2 separate regions of the Homo sapiens genome follow, and region 1 is linked to region 2. The links come from fine-mapping of genetic effects on gene expression. A gene starts in region 2. The other region holds a variant in brackets. All regions are shown on one strand. Distances are between the middles of the regions. Region 1 overlaps PAMR1 (peptidase domain containing associated with muscle regeneration 1). Region 2 holds the start of SLC1A2 (solute carrier family 1 member 2).

Region 1 (2,913 bases), 78 kb after region 2:
CACAGGGTTGATCACTCTCAATTTTCCAAGTAGAGCCATTTAAATAAACTATCATCATCTATCTTAGCCTCAGGTCATAAGAACATGCTAATATCATAGAAGGCAGACACTCGCACAATGAGGGACAGTTATTTAAATGGAATAAATTTAGTTTCATGAAAATTTGACTTTTTAAATCATTTTTCCACAAATTAGTGGGCCAGAAAAGATCCTTACATTGGTGTTTGGGAATGAATGGCTACATCATCATAGCATAATCGCCACTGAGATTTCTTTCCACCACTACTGTCTGAGCCCCTTCAGGGTGACCACCATGACTTACTTAGCTGCGCTTCCCATGTCTCTGATGTTTTACTGACAAAGTGAATGACTTCTAAAATCTGGATGAGAATTTAATGGTTAAAAGTGAGGAACAGCAGAAGGAAACATAGGAGTAAATCTCCATCCATGATCTTGGATTTGGCTATGGATTCTTAGACATGACACCAAAAGCAGGAGCAACAAAATAAAAATGAATTAGACTTTATCAAAATTAAAAATGTTTGTGCAGCAAAGGACATTATCAAATAAGTGAAAAGACCACCCACAAAATGGGAGAAAATATCAGAAAATATTTCTGATAAAGGCTTGATATCCAGGACATATTTCTAAAACTCATACAACTCAACCATAAAAAAGACAACATAGTTTTTTAAATGAGCAAATGACTTGAATAGACATTTCTCCAAAGAAGCTATATAAACGGCCAACAAGCACACAAAAAGATGTTTAACATCACAAGTCATTTGGGAAATGCAAATCAAAATCACAATGAGCTACCACTTACTAGGGTGGCTATGATCCAAACCAAGGGAAAAATGGAAAACAAGTGTTGGCAGAGAAGTAGAGAAATTGGAACCCTTGTATATTGCTGATAGAAATGTGAAATGGTGCAGCCCCTATGGAAAACAGTTTGGCAGTTCCTCTTAAAGCTAAACAGAATTGCCCAGCAATTACACTTCTAGGTATAGATCTAAAAAATTGAAAACAGAGACTCAGAGATACTTGTATGCCAATGTTCATTCACAATAGCCAAAAGGTGGAAACAACTCAATTTTCCATCAAGAGACAAATGGATAAACAAAATGAGGTACATGGGCTGAACGCAGTGGCTCACACCTGTAATCCCAACACTTTGGGAGGCTGAGGCAGGCAGATCACTTGAGGCCAGGAGTTTGAGACCAGCCTAGCCAACATGGTGAAACCTCATCTCAACTAAAGATACAAAAAATTAGGCGGGAGCAGTGGTGCACACCTGTAATCCCAGCTACTTAGGAGGCTGAGGCACGAGAATCGCTTGAACCCAGGGGCAGAGGTTGCAGTGAGCCAAGATTGTGTCATTGGACACCAGCCTGGGAAACAGACCAAGACTCTTGTCTGAAAATAATAGTAATAATAACAAATAATATAAAAAATAAAAAATGAGGTACGTGCATACAATGGAATATTATTCAGCCATGAAAAGAAATGAGGAGCTGCTAGGTGCTACAATGTAAATGAACCTTGAAATCATGCCAAGCAAAAGAAGCCAAACACAAAAGGACAAATATTGTCTGATTCTACTTAAATGCAATATCTACAATAGGCAAATTCATAGAGACAGAAAGTAGATTAAAGGTTACCAGGAGCTGGGGGAAAGCTGAATGGAGAGGTGTTGCTT[G/A]ATGGTTACAGAGTTTCTGTTTGGGGTGGTGAACTAGATACAGGTGATGGTTGCACAATCACAGGAATCTAATTAACGCCACAGAATTATACACTTAAAATGGCTAAAATGGCACATTTTCTTAGCCTTCTCTATCCTTCCACTCCTCCTCTGATTATCTGCACTGGGCTTTAATTACCCCTTAGCTCTCCCTTCATTGTACATTTATATCTTCCTATAGGTAAAATGTTTTTGTGTGTCCATAAACCCTAAGACCATGTTGACCACTCTGAATTTTCAATAAATAGTGATTGATCAACTATAACATGTCACTGTACTGATATTTATTACTGTACTACATTATAACATTCAACTTCTCTTCTTTCTCATTGCAAGTAAAATATCTAAAAATTATAACTCAATACAGCTTTCTTTTTTTATATATATAGCTTCTTTTTAACATAGAAAAAAATCATATTTTCAAAGGCTGAGAGAATGAAGGGAAGCCATCCAGTTAGAAAGGATAGCATACCCAAAGGCCACAGGATGGAAATAAACACAGGCCATATGCACAGGACAAAAACCAAGCTTACTTGAAAGTAGCAAAGACTATGAATCCTGTGCAAGTTCTTGTTTACATCACATGCTCCTACCTGTGCCAAGTTTTCCTAGTGGAATGTGTGTTATTAATAATATGCTGTAGTTTTGTAAATCCATGTGGTATAGCCCATTATTCAAATTATTCAAATTTTGGTATTTGTGATACCAGAAAAGGGCACATTTTATGTTATCTACATATATATTACCACAATTTTTTAATTGTGAAAAGTCGAGGAGGGAGAGTGAGAGAGAACAAATTGGTTAGAGGCTCAAACATGGGAGTCAACAGACCTGCATTTGGAATCTCCCTCTGCTACTTGCCTTGGCAAAGCTACGTTACTCTCTCAGTCTCAGTTTAGTATCCAGTAAAATGAGTGTACATTTTCTCCAATTTAGGCCTGTTGAAAATACTAGACAAAATAATGCATATAAACAGCTTAGCACAGCACCCAGTATGTACTAAACATTCAGAAACTAATAGCTTAGAAAGAAAAAAAGAAAAACAATAGAGAATGCTCATATTTCTCAAGGATATGGTTTTTTACGTATGTCAGATCAATTTCTTGCTTAAAATGGTCACCTTGCTTCCCATCGCTTTTGCAGTAACCCTCAAATTCTCTGCCCCAGCCCACAAG
Region 2 (2,837 bases):
GTGTGAGTATTCAAAGAATCCTTTTGCCCCCTGCAGCCCCTTCTGTCTCTTGCTAAAGACAATTGTCTTTAGTTATCACTGCGAGGGAGCTTTCCCCATGCCAGCTGGAATCTTGGGAGGCAGGACACGACTCCAGATCCTCGGGCTGAATAGGGAAGCCAATGCTATCCCTGCCCGCTGGAGTCTGGCGACTCCTGCCCTTGTCCCAAACCACACGTTTTCCCGCCTCCCGGGAAGCACCCAAATCTCTTCCACCCTTCCTTAGAGCTAGCCAGGGAGATTCCGCCTTCCAGGGACAAGGACCGATCGGAGCGGGCCCAGCATCTCCATGGCGACTCTGCAAACCTGGCGTTCAAGGCCGCGCGCGCTGGTCCTTGCCCCGCCCCAGGGCCCTGTCTTGGCTCATTCCTTCCGAGCCGGCACCACCTGCAAGCCCGCCTCGGGCCTGGGGCGCCGCGCTCCAGGCGCTGCTACCCCGGTGTCTGCTCACACTATGCCCAATCCCCTATTGTTTTGAAATCCCAAAAGTAACCTCAAGAGGATTTCTTCCTCACACTCTCAGGCCCCCAGCGCACCTTACCCTTTTTATCAAAATAAAACAACCCTCCACCTCTCGCATTTTCAAAGGATTAAGCAGCAATCTCCAGGAAAGAAAATCAATCCCCTCCCCACCATCCCATCCCCAGCCAAGCTACGGCTCCGCCACCACCTCCGAGGCCCGCCGCCGCCGCCTCTCTATCCGCATCCCGGATAGGGGCGCCACCACCCCGCGCGTGACCCCGCTTTCCCGCGGGTACAGATAAAAATCCCCTCACCCTTCCGTAGATGCCATGGTCTGGGGAACGCCCCCTCCTCTTCAGCACTATCCGGCAGCTGTGGGCGAGGGAGAAAGCGGACGCCGGGGTGAGCGCGAAGTGCGGCCGGGAGCGGTATTTAAGAGGAGCCTCTGCCCGCCCTTCCACCCGCCTCCGGGGTAAGCCCTTTAGCGCCTCAACGGGCGCAGGAGGCTCCTGCGGGCGCTAATCCGCGTCCCGGCTCTCCACGGCGCGCGACCCGCGCTCCCCTCCGCCCGCGGGGATGGCGCTTGGCGGGGAGCTCCGGGGGCTCCGAGGGTGGCTTCCCCGAGAGAGCGATGCGCCCAGGGCTGCAGGAGGGCGCACGCCGGCGATGCGCCCCTGCAGCCGCTGCCACCTGTGCTTTGCTGCGGGGCTCGCGGGCGCGGCGAGTGGCGGGAGCAGAGAGTGGTGGCAGAGGACGGTGAGCGTGCGTGCGCGTGTGCGGGTGTGTGCGCGCCTGGGGAGGCGGTGGAGGCCGCTGCGCTCTGGCTCGGCGCCGGCCAGGGAGGGATTGCAAGGTTTAGCCCCGCCGGAGCTGGGGATTTGCAGGCGATCCCTCTCTATTTTCGTCGAGAGCTGACATCACCCGCGCCGCCGCCTCGGGCAACTCCTTTAACCGCCGCCCCCCGCCCCCATCTCCAGTCGCGGTCCCTCCTCTGCCATCCCTCCCCCCAGCCTCTCGCCATAAATTAGCCAAATAAGAAAAGAGGCCCCGCCGCTCGTCCGGGAAGGCTTGGGCAGCCGGTGGCAGGAGCCCAGGATCTAAGGAGTAGCTATTGTTTCCCCTGAAGCCCGCGTGGCCCCAGGTCACCCCGTGCGGGGTGAAGCGCAGGCGACCGCGCGGAGACCCGGGATGCCCCTCCGTCTCCGCCTCCCTGGAGCAGCCCCTGGCGCTCCCTCCTCACTCCCCGGAGCACCCGCTTCAGCTCACACTCACCCCCAAACTCACAGGCAGGCACACCCACCCCATCCTCCCACGTCTGGGGGTCCCAGGTCCAGCGGAGTCGAGCGGCTGAAACACGCGGGTGGTGCAGCCTAAACGCGGCCCAGCTGCGCTCCCTCCCCCGCCGAAGCTCGAATAAATCTCTGGCCTTCAATTATTCAGCGAGATTAATATTAATGCAGCTCCCTGGGGGCGGCGGGCGGGGTGCAGGGGAGGCCGGGATTTTTTTTTTTTTTTTTTAGGCCGAGAGAGGTCGGCCTCGTGGGTGCCGGCTGAGAAGGCGCGGAGAGTTGGCCGAGGGGTGAGTGGCGGGGGACGGTTCTCCACCCACTCGGCGCTGCTCGCCGCCTGCTTCCGTGTCCCGGGGGCGGCGCACAGAGACAGATGGGCTTGTGCAAGGGAGAGTTCGAGCCTTCCGGACGCCTTTGCATAAAAATGACGAGACCTGTGCAGCTTTGATTATCTCTGGAATACTGCAGGAACCTAGGGTCCCACTACTTGCCGACCCTGTGAGCGCAGAGCAGGCAAAGCCTCACTTTCCTCGTCTAGGCAATGGAACCCAAAAGAACTCACTTGGAGGGCCACAGGAGAATTAAACAGACTCTCTTTTTCCCCGGGGTAGACGATCTTCGGATTTGCGCTGTGCTGGACCTTGTTAGACGATGGAACGCGACCGGCCACGTGCAAACTCTCTGAGTAGGTCCCGGGGATGGTGCCAGAGGAGCCGGAGTCCCAGCAGGACCGATTGGTAGTTAAATGCCAGGCGCTGATATCCGAAGGCTTGAGTTCTTCACCACCTTCTAGCTGAGTAACCTGGGGCAAATTCCTCCATCTCTCTCTTCATCCCACCTGTAAAATGGGACTATCTTCTCCCACTTCTCTGTGCTAAGAGAACTAAATGAAATGGAGAGGATATGTAAAACTCCTAAAGTGGCGTCTGGCACCCAGTAAACCCTCCAAAAATATTCAGTGCATTTTCAGAGTCCTTAGAAGATAGTTTATTGGACAAAATATCCAAGTATGAACAGACAGATGAGAAAAATAACAAGAAAAAGAGG

What was found. PIP is the estimated chance that this variant, and not a neighbour inherited with it, causes the effect.
Region 1: its variant is the best candidate, but not a certain one, in a credible set for the expression of SLC1A2 in nasal epithelium (TOPMed, PIP 0.79).

The regions. Positions count from the first base shown.
Region 1 is chr11:35,495,748-35,498,660 of GRCh38, forward strand. All of the region lies in intron 1 of PAMR1 (peptidase domain containing associated with muscle regeneration 1), which reads right to left. Among named protein-coding and RNA genes, the nearest start is that of PAMR1, 28 kb to the right of the region's middle. The variant G/A (reference allele first, on the strand shown) is at 1,700.
Region 2 is chr11:35,418,135-35,420,971 of GRCh38, forward strand. SLC1A2 (solute carrier family 1 member 2) reads right to left here and starts at 1,424. Exons shown (of 11, transcript NM_004171.4): 1 at 816-1,424. The coding sequence starts at 832. It overlaps SLC1A2-AS2 (SLC1A2 antisense RNA 2), which reads left to right and starts at 923. Exons shown (of 2, transcript NR_186310.1): 1 at 923-973; 2 at 2,402-2,837. RefSeq lists an enhancer at 1,070-1,570.